Linked DNA regions of Homo sapiens: region 1 is linked to region 2. Evidence: fine-mapped expression QTL. A gene starts in region 2. The other region holds a variant in brackets. All regions are shown on one strand. Distances are from middle to middle.

Region 1 (5,365 bases), 47 kb after region 2:
CGGTTTCCCAGATGGGTTCTTCGCTGTGGCTTTCCTCGCCTCTCTGGTAAACCTGCTGACCTACAGTTTAGTTTCTTGCTCTAATGGAACTGCTGGCCTCCTCTTAACTGCTTACCATCAAAATGTCCATTCTTTTCCAGGGCACTTTTAGGCTTGAACATCCCCATACTGTTTCAAATCAAGTCAGTTCCTTTGGGAGGGGCTTTGGAGCTCTCTGTTCTTACGGCCTCTCTCTCTTTTGGGCTGAATGTCTGAGCCCCTACTATAGACCTAGAGGCAGGAACAGTGCCTGAGTCTATCAGAGGGAATTCTGTTGCATTAGCCGGGTTCTGTGTGGGGGGCAGCAGCCTCTCACTGCATGGACACCCCACCCTATGGGCAATGTGGGTTGATGGAAATTGGGGCTCCGTATGCTTGGCCTCCCATGCCTGGGTAAAGCCTCTGCCCTCTGAGTGGGGATGACTGAAGAGATTTTCAGTCACACTTCCCAGGAATTTACTGCAACTTAGAGCTGAAGGGGTTGAGAAATGCTGGTGGCCTGCCCCTCCCAGTGAGATACCATATCCCTTGACCGGGAACTGCAAGGAGTGGGAACCGTTTTCTTGGTCACAACCACCCACAATGGAGCCTCCACCATAGGGAGCTGGGGGCAGAAAGGGAGGGAAGGAGCTGGTCGTAGCTCAAACGTCACAATCCTCACTGCCCTTTCCAAGACTTACTACATTTTCTTGGATGTTTATTTGCTGTACTCCCCTAGGACAATTTCTGGAGACCTTAAGGGGTTATTTTTTCACAATTTTCACTAGTTATTTCTCTGGAGAGTTGGTCCACTGAGCTCATCACACCACCACTCCCCAAGCGGAAGCCAAAAGTTCTAAAATTTGATGAAGTCCAATCCAAGAAATCCTAGTTCTAACTCCAGGTCAGGAAGATTTTCCAATGTGTTTTCTCCTAAAAATGTTATAGTTTCACCTTTCACTTTAGATCGATGACCCATTTTGAATTCATTTTTGTACCAAGTGTGAAGTTTAGGTCATCCTTTGTCTCTGCTGATGAACGTCCTGTCACTCCAAGGCCATTTGCTGGAGTCTACTATGACACTCTAGTCTGACCCAGATCGTGGGGTCTCTCCCTCTGCCAGTGCCACACTATCTTGATTACTGTCACGAGCCCGTAAGTCTTAAGACCCCGCAATGTGATTCCACCCATTTTAAACTTTTATTTCAAAACTGTTTTGGCTTTTTTGTTTCAAAACTGTTTTGGCTTTTTTATTTCCTTTACCTTTCTATGCAAATTTTAGAATCAGCTTGTCTGCATCTAAAAAGAATCCTGCTGGGATTTTGATAGTCATTGTGTTAAACCTACGAATCAACTTGGGAAAAAGTCGCATCTTTACTGAGTCTTCTAATCCACGGGCGCAGGACGTCTTTTGACGTATTTCAATCTTCCCTGGTCTCTCTCTTCAGCATTTTCTTTAGTATCTTCCACGTACAAACCCTGTACATGATTTCCTAGACTGACATCTAAGTACTTCAGTGTTGGAGCCCCTGCAAATGATCTACCTGCAGGCTCAACTGCCAATGGGACCGACGTCTCCTCCCGGCTCCTTTACTCCTGCAGCGTCTCTAAGAGTCTCACCGACTGGCTTTTCCCAATCAACTTCAAAATTATTTTACGTTCACAAAATTGTTTTTTCCACTAGAATCACATGAAATCTATATATCAACTACACAATTCTAGGATGTTTAGTGTTTCACCCCAAGAACACGGTAGGTCTCTCCATGCTCTTTTTTTTTTTTTTTGAGGTGCAGTGGCTCACGCCTGTAATCTCAACACTTTGGGAGGCTGAGGCGGGCGGATCACATGTGGTCAGGAGTTTGAGACCAGCCTGACCAACATGGCAAAACCCCATCTCTACTAAAAATACAAAAATTAGCTGGGCATTGTGGCACATGCCTGTAATCCCAGCTACGCGGGAAGCTGAGGCAGGAGAAGTGCTTGAATCCAGGAGGCGGAGGTTGCAGTGAGCCGAGACCGCGCCACTGCACCCCAGTGTGGGCGACAGAATGAGACTTCGTCTCAGAAAAAAAAAAAGAAAGAAAAATTATTTTGGGTCTTTGTGAAGCAGTTAAGAATTTAGAATAAGGAAATACGTCAAAAAGGCGTTAAAAGCTCTACACATGAATAAGTTTACAGTAGCATTTTTCTGACATGTTACAAAATGAGGAATATAAAATGGCATGCATACAAGGAAAAGCGTGTATGTTTAGTTTTAGAGTTAAGGCGGTGACATTATAACCGCTTTTCATTATTTAAGGTTTCCACAAATGTTCTTTGAGCAACATCTTGGGGGCCAACCACGTGTTCCCCATCGAGACATCAGGATTCACTGTGACGTATCAGGGAGGAGGGAACAGAGCAACCCAGGAGAAGTGAGGACAGTGTCTCTCTCCAAGGCAGAGGGCAGGAGGGAAACAGCCGAGAGGCCAAGGGCTGTGGGACCCACTCAGCCGCCCCCAGCCCCACCAAGTCATCCTGTTCCAGACACGCTGGCCACTTACTAAGGTCATGTCGTCGCAGCAGGCAGCACAGGTGCAAGAGGCAGCGTGAGGGTTTAAGATCCCATCCTGAGATGTGAAAAGAACCACCATGCATTAGCAAGTCAGCCCCTAAATGTCAATCATTCAATAATAGAAGATTTCAACCACTTTTACCACTTACCTACCATTCATAAATATAAAAATTCTTTTTTTTTTTTTTTTTTTTGAGACAGAGTCTTGTTGGGTTGCCCAGGCTGGAGTGCAGTGGCACGTTCTCGGCTCAGTGCAACCTCTGCCTCCCCGGCGCAAGCAATTCTCATGCCTCGGCCTCCCAAGAAGCTGGGATTATAGGTTTGCACCACCACACCCAGCTAATTTTTGTATTTTTAGTAGAGACAGGTTTTGCCATGTTGACCAGGCTGGTCTCGAACTCCTGGCCTCAAGCAATCTGCCCGCCTCGGCCTCCCGAAGTGCTGGGATTACAAGCGTAAGCCACCGTGCCCAACCTCATAAAGATAAAAATTCTGCAAAATCAGGGCCGGGCATGGTGGCTCATGCCTGTAATCCCAGGACTTTGAGAGGCCGACGCAGGCAGACCACCTGAGCTCAGGAGCTGGAGACCAGCCTGGCCAACATGGTGAAACCTCGTGTCTGCTAAAAATACAAAAATTAGCTGGGCATGGTGGCGCATGCCCATAGTCCCAGCTACCTGGGAGGCTCAGGCAGGAGGATCGCTTGAACCCGGGAGGCAGAGGTTACAGTGA[G/C]CTGAGATCACACCACTGCACTCCAGCCTGGGCAACAGAGGGAGGCCTTTGCCTCAAAAAAAAAAAAAATTGTGAGAAATCAGGTAATGCCCAGGCCAGGTGTGGTGGCTCACACATGTAATCCCAGCACTTTGGGAGGCCGAGGCGGGTGGCTCACTTAAGGTCAGAAGTTCAAGACCAACCTGACCAACATGGTTGGTCTCCATTAAAATACAAAAATTAGGCCGGGTATTGTGGCTCACGCCTGTAATCCCAGCACTTTGAGAGGCGAGGCAGGTGGCTCACTTGAGGTCGGGAGTTCGAGACTAGCCTGGCCAGCGTGGTGAAACCCTGTCCCTATTAAAAAATACAAAAAAAATAGGCCGGGTATTGTGGCTCACACCTGTAATCCCAGCACTTTGGGAGGCCGAGGCAGGCAGATCACCTGAGGTCAGGACTTCAAGACCAGCCTGGCCAACATGGTGAAACCCCATCTCTACTGAAAATTAAAAAAAAAAAAAAAAAAGCCAGGTGTGGTGGCGGGCACCTGTAATCCCAGCTACTCAGGAGGCTGAGGTGGGACAATCCTCTGAGCCTGGGAGGTGGAGGTTGCTGTGAGCCAAGATCAAGCCACTGCACTCCAGCCTGGGCAACAGGGTGAGACTCTGTCTCAAAAAAAAAAAAAAAAAACCACAAAAACAGTAATTTCCAGAGCCTTCTCCTTTTCACAATGCCATTATTGGTGGCAGGACCTACCTCTTTCCTTTCAAGATTTGCAAAAGTCTCTACAGGAATTGCTTCCTTAACAACACCCAAGGAGCTAAACTGGAATAGGAATTAGAAGTCCTCTTTTCTTAGTAGACTGACGAGAAGTTAGGTGACTTTGAAAGGGTCACACGCATTCAAACAGAAGCGATTATCTTAACTTCTACTGTTTTCATTTTTTGTGTATTTGACACGCCCCCTTTCTGCAGCTATTCTGTGCCAGGCGCTGTGACCTCATGCACTTCTCCCAACAATCCTCACAGGGTCACGATCATCGTCATCCCCACGTGAAAGACCCGGAAACTGAAACATGAGAGGGTAAATCACTCGCCCAAGGCCACACAGACAGCAGGTGGAGGCTGCAAACCCCATTTGTCTGACCCCGTGGTCTGTGCCCTCCCTCTGGCTGGGCCGCCTCAGAGGGCCCCACGTCTGAACTGTGTGCTGAGCACAGGTGAGGTCACGGACGATACCTGGATGAGGCACTGCAAGGGTCGGCCCGCGTAGCGAATGCTTCTTTTCCAGTCCTTACTGCTGGCTCTTCCTGCCATGGCCTCAAACTCGGTGGGACTGTACCAGTTCTCCCCCTGCTTGATGCACCGTCCCCGGCCGCCTGCAAGGAAGGGCAGCAGTCATGATGATGGCAGGTGGGAACGTCACCTCTGCCATTGCCTACCTCCTGGCGCCTCCTCAACCCCTCCACCAGCACCAGCGCCCCAGCGGCTCATGTGATCTCACCCACCCACATACTTGGCCCTGACAGGTCCACCACGGGTCTGCCTTTGCAGCCTGTGCCTCTGACCCCCTACGTGATCTCTCCACCCGCTGTCCACAGGCAGTGCAAGCTCAACCAGGTCCCACACTGAGCACCTCTGGTACCCACTTCCAGAGCCTTCATCTACAAGTCCCAAGCTAACCTGGCAACTTGAGGAACACGTCCCAGCCCTGCCTCCCTCCTGCTTCTTCTCGCTTGTCTCCTGTCCCGTGGGTCACGATGGCTTTTCACCCCCAGATGGTTCCTGGGCGCAGCCCTGTCCCGTGCCTCTCCCAGGCCTCAGCTCAGTTCACAGGAACTGGGTGTCACCTGCACCTTTTGTCTTGTTTTTTTGTTGTCGTTGTTGTTGAGACGGAGTCTCGCTCTGTCGCCCAGGATGGAGTGCAGTGGCGTGATCTCAGCTCACTGCAAGCTCTGCCTCCTGGGTTCACGCCATTCTCCTGCCTCAGCCTCCCGAGTAGCTGGGACTATGGGACTACAGGCGCCTGCCACCACGCTCCACTAATTTTTTGTATTTTTAGTAGAGACGGGTTTTCATCGTG
Region 2 (5,365 bases):
GCTGCAGTGAGCCATGATTGCAGTAAGATGTGATCACATCCAGTTACATTTGATTTTCAGATAAACAACAGAAGTTTAGTGGAGGCTGGGGGCAGTGGCTCACAGCTGTAATCCCAGCACTTTAGGAAGCTGAGGCAGGTGGATCACCTGAGGTCAGGAGTTCGAGACCAGCCTGGCCAATATGATGAAACCGTGTCTCTACTAAAAATACAAAAAAATTAGCCGGGCGTGGTGGCGGGCGCCTATAATCCCAGCTACTCAGAAGGCTGAGGCAGGAGAATCGCTTGAACCCGGGAGACGGAGGTTGCAGTGAGCCAAGATTGTGCTGCTGCACTCCAGCCTGGGTGATAAGAGTGAAACTCCATCTCAAAAAAAAAAAAAAAAAAAAAACAAATTGGGGTTGTCTGTCTTTTCTCATTGTTTCCATTGTTTCTGGATCTGTGTGTCAGAGATGTGTGCTGCACACATCCTTTCTCCGCCTAGCTTGGTTTTCACTCTTGGTGGTCGCAGACATCTTGGGGGCTACTTGAAGGAACTCTAAGCCGACCAGAGGCTGGGCTGGACTCGCCGTTTGGCGCCCAGCCGGAGACCCCAGGGCCACCCTCCCCGGTTCCATCCTGGGAGAGAAGAAACTTCCACTGTCCCAGTCTCTCCTGTGGTGACTTCTTTTGCTCAAGGGTTCACAAGGGCAGCAGACTGATCTGCACAAGAGGGACTGAGCCTGGCTGCGGCCGCACCTGATGCCTGTGCACACCTGTCCCTGGTGGTCTCTCCTGTGGTGACTTCTTTTGCTCAAGGGTTCACAAGGGCAGCAGACTGATCTGCACAAGAGGGACTGAGCCTGGCTGCGGCCGCACCTGATGCCTGTGCACACCTGTCCCTGGTGCAGGCCCTTCCCCCGCAGCCCCGTGACCTTGTCCTGTGAGGCTCACGGTGCCTGCTCCTTCTCAGAGTCCTCATTTCTCCCTTTAACGCACGCCCTGTCAGCGCCTCCGTCTAGCCCGTGTCCTCCAGACCTTCGAGGTCAGGGGCCTCAATTCCTGGCACAGCCCCTCCACTCCAGGCCTCCCAGAAACAGACTAGAGCATCAGGATGTGCGCCGCCTGGGGTCCCACAGAGTGGTGCCCCCTTTTAGTGTCTTCTAGGCCCCTTAGTGACAGACTACAGAAAATACCTCTCAGGTCACAGGTCACCCCTCTTTGGTGAAGAGTCCATAGAATTCTCTGCTGCGCTTTGCAAGCACTTTCTCTTCTGCACGTTTGGAACCTACCCCGGCCTGTCGTGTCTTTCTCCTGGCCTCCTCGCGAGCCGAACCTACTGTCCGGTCCCGGGACCCCCTGCCCAGGGTCAGAGGGGCGCCTACCTAGCTCACGGTCTTGGGCCGGAGGGAATGGAGGAGGGAGCGGGGTCGACCGCTCAGCTGTCCGCCCAGTTTCGGAGGCGGCCACGCGAGGATCAACTGTGCAACGGGTGGGGCCGCGGCTGACCGTGGTGGTCGCGGGGGCTGAGGGCCAGAGGCTGCGGGGGGGGGGCGGCGGGATGAGCTAGGCGTCGGCGGTTGAGTCGGGCGCGGAGTCGGGGGCAGGGGGAGCGGGCGTGGAGGGTGCGCACGAGGTCGAGGCGAGTCCGCGGGGGAGGCGGGCAGAGCCTGAGCTCAGGTCTTTCTGCGTCTGGCGGAACGGGCCTGGGAGGGAGGTTTTGCCAGATACCAGGTGGACTAGGGTGAGCGCCCGAGGGCCGGGACGCACGCACGGGCCGGGTAGGATGGCGCTGGCGTCGATGCCCGCGCGCTTCAGGGCCTGGTCTGGCCGCCCCTCCATCCTTGTCGGTTTCTCGGGTCGCGGACCCCGCGCGGCGCCGGGCGATGCTGGCCTGCCCGTGGCCACCACCTCGCTTCATTCCCGTCTCTTTGGGCCGCCGCATTCGTCCACGTGCCCGTCTCTCCCTGCGCAAAATTCCAAGATGAGCAAATACTGGGCTCACGGTGGAGCGCCGCGGGGGCCCCCCTGAGCCGGGGCGGGTCGGGGGCGGGACCAGGGTCCGGCCGGGGCGTGCCCGAGGGGAGGGACTCCCCGGCTTGCGACCCGGCGTTGTCCGCGGTGCTCAGCGCCCGCCCGGGCGCGCCATGGGGAACCGCAGCACCGCGGACGCGGACGGGCTGCTGGCTGGGCGCGGGCCGGCCGCGGGGGCATCTGCGGGGGCATCTGCGGGGCTGGCTGGGCAGGGCGCGGCGGCGCTGGTGGGGGGCGTGCTGCTCATCGGCGCGGTGCTCGCGGGGAACTCGCTCGTGTGCGTGAGCGTGGCCACCGAGCGCGCCCTGCAGACGCCCACCAACTCCTTCATCGTGAGCCTGGCGGCCGCCGACCTCCTCCTCGCTCTCCTGGTGCTGCCGCTCTTCGTCTACTCCGAGGTGAGCCGCGTCCGGCCGCACGAGCATCCTCACCTGCTCCTCGGTTCCCCGTCCCTGTCCCTACGGAGGACCCGGCGCGACCCGGCCCCTTTCTGGTGCGGAGCTTCCAGCTGGGGCGGCGGCAGGGGCGCTGCGCCTTGTCCCTCGGCGATACACCCACCGCCGCCACCTCGCGACCTTCCACCCGCTGCGCTGTCTGTCCCCCGACCCTCGTTCCTCTTCTCCTTCCCCGTCTGTCTTGGCGTCTGTTATCCAGGAGATGCCCGTCCTTCTATCCAGGGACCCCGGAAACAGGCGACTTTGTCAAGCCCAGTCCCCTCCGTAGCTGGATTTCACCTCCAGGGCAGCCAGCTGGACAGACAGGCAGATGCAGGCTCAGCCCCCTGGCTGCCGTGGGACACACACACACACACACTGCCACAGCCACTGCCCACCACACACACCTAGTGCAGATGCTGGCACACCCCCAGAAGGAGGCTCACAGCTCGCAGGGGAGACCTGGGCTGGACAAAACCCAGGGGAGGGGAGGGTGTGTGGGGACCAGGCCCCTGCTGAGAACCCTGGGGGGAAGCCTGAGGGGGAATTGGGGGATGGAGCCCACACTCCACACCAGGTCTGGCCCTCGAGTGGGTCGGCCTTGGTGCCAGCCCCTCTGCGGCCAGAGAAAAGCAGCTTAGGGCTGAGCTGGAGACGCGGTGTCCCCGACTGTGGGGGAGGGGGACTCGAGGTTTCCCCTTGATGGACACAGTGAATCCAGGCGGCTGGGGCAGAGACCAGCAGCACGGGACACGCGTGACCTGTGCTCCTTTCGAGCCGCAGACGTCACAGTGACGACGTTTAAGCTCCTAATCTCCCCAAATCGGCGGGAAGGATTAGAGGGGCTGCCTGCTCCTTTGCCCTTGGAGAGAGTCACTCCACGTGGAGTCCTACGCTGGGCACTGGGCACGGTCTTCATATTTTTAATTATAATTTATCTTCAAGACAATTATGATGTGGATACTATCATCACCCTTGTCTTACAGATGAAGAAACAGAAATGAATTAACGTGCCCGAGTCTCCCACAGAGAACTTAGCCAACAGAGCAGCCAGCTTCGCTTCTAGGCCCAGCGGGGACCCTGCCTACCCCAGGCTGGGGAGGGGCTCCCTTTGAGCCCGATGATATCAGGCCCGCCCCCAGGGAATTCCCCAGGCCGTTCTCATGTTTGTAACAAAAGGGAGACCAAGGCCAGAAGCCGTGATTCACGCCTGTAATCCCAGGACTTTGGGAGGCAAAGGCAGGAGGATAGTTTGAGACCAGCCTGGGAAACATACCAGGCCTGGTCTCTACAAAAAATTTTAAAATATCAGCCGGGGGTGGTGGCTGCGGCTGTTGTCCCAGCTATTCGGGGGAGCTGAGGCGGCAGAATCGCTTAAACCTGGGAGGCGGAGGTTGCAGTGAGTTGAGATCTCACCACTGCACTCCAGCCTGGGCAACAAGAGCGAAACTCCGTCTCAAAAAACAAAAAGAAAAACAAATCAGCCGGGGGTGGTGGCGCGCGGCTGTAATCCCAGCTACTCTGGAGACTGAGGTGGGAGGATCGCTTGAGCTCAGGAATTCCAGGCTACAGTGAGCCATGATGGAGCCACAGCACTCCAGCCGCGGTGACACAGCGAGACCCTAACTCAAAACAAAGGGAGATCTGCGTGGGGAAGGGGTGTTTCCCTGCCCGGTCCTCTGGCCTCTGGCTCACAGCCGGGCCCCCTTCTCCGTATTCAGCCCTGGAACTACCCATAAGAGTGGGGGCGGGTCACAAGGGCCCGCGGTGGCTGGGAAACCTCAGGGCCTGTGGTGTCGCCGCGCAGGTCCAGGGTGGCGCGTGGCTGCTGAGCCCCCGCCTGTGCGACGCCCTCATGGCCATGGACGTCATGCTGTGCACCGCCTCCATCTTCAACCTGTGCGCCATCAGCGTGGACAGGTGCGCCGCCCTCCCCGCCCGCGCCCCGGCGCCCCCGCGCCCCGCCCGCCGCCCTCACCGCGGCCTGTGCGCTGTCCGGCGCCCCCTCGGCGCTCCCCGCAGGTTCGTGGCCGTGGCCGTGCCGCTGCGCTACAACCGGCAGGGTGGGAGCCGCCGGCAGCTGCTGCTCATCGGCGCCACGTGGCTGCTGTCCGCGGCGGTGGCGGCGCCCGTACTGTGCGGCCTCAACGACGTGCGCGGCCGCGACCCCGCCGTGTGCCGCCTGGAGGACCGCGACTACGTGGTCTACTCGTCCGTGTGCTCCTTCTTCCTACCCTGCCCGCTCATGCTGCTGCTCTACTGGGCCACGTTCCGCGGCCTGCAGCGCTGGGAGGTGGCACGTCGCGCCAAGCTGCACGGCCGCGCGCCCCGCCGACCCAGCGGCCCTGGCCCGCCTTCCCCCACGCCACCCGCGCCCCGCCTCCCCCAGGACCCCTGCGGCCCCGACTGTGCGCCCCCCGCGCCCGGCCTTCCCCGGGGTCCCTGCGGCCCCGACTGTGCGCCCGCCGCGCCCAGCCTCCCCCAGGACCCCTGCGGCCCCGACTGTGCGCCCCCCGCGCCCGGCCTCCCCCCGGACCCCTGCGGCTCCAACTGTGCTCCCCCCGACGCCGTCAGAGCCGCCGCGCTCCCACCCCAGACTCCACCGCAGACCCGCAGGAGGCGGCGTGCCAAGATCACCGGCCGGGAGCGCAAGGCCATGAGGGTCCTGCCGGTGGTGGTCGGTGGGTTCCTGTCCTGAGGGGCGGGGAGGAGAGGAGGGGGGGGGTACGAGGCCGGCTGGGCGGGGGGCGCTAACGCGGCTCTCGGCGCCCCCAGGGGCCTTCCTGCTGTGCTGGACGCCCTTCTTCGTGGTGCACATCACGCAGGCGCTGTGTCCTGCCTGCTCCGTGCCCCCGCGGCTGGTCAGCGCCGTCACCTGGCTGGGCTACGTCAACAGCGCCCTCAACCCCGTCATCTACA

What was found. PIP is the estimated chance that this variant, and not a neighbour inherited with it, causes the effect.
Region 1: its variant is fine-mapped to the expression of DRD4 in prostate (GTEx, PIP above 0.99).

The regions. Positions count from the first base shown.
Region 1 is chr11:682,337-687,701 of GRCh38, forward strand. DEAF1 (DEAF1 transcription factor) reads right to left here. Exons shown (of 12, transcript NM_021008.4): 5 at 4,522-4,661; 6 at 2,562-2,627. Among named protein-coding and RNA genes, the nearest start is that of DEAF1, 10 kb to the right of the region's middle. RefSeq lists enhancers at 4,250-4,750, 4,751-5,251. The variant G/C (reference allele first, on the strand shown) is at 3,305.
Region 2 is chr11:635,180-640,544 of GRCh38, forward strand. It overlaps DRD4 (dopamine receptor D4), which reads left to right and starts at 2,090. Exons shown (of 4, transcript NM_000797.4): 1 at 2,090-2,410; 2 at 4,254-4,366; 3 at 4,469-5,127; 4 at 5,222-5,365. The coding sequence starts at 2,126. RefSeq lists enhancers at 372-907, 908-1,441, 1,977-2,510, 2,511-3,045, 3,046-3,579 and 3 more.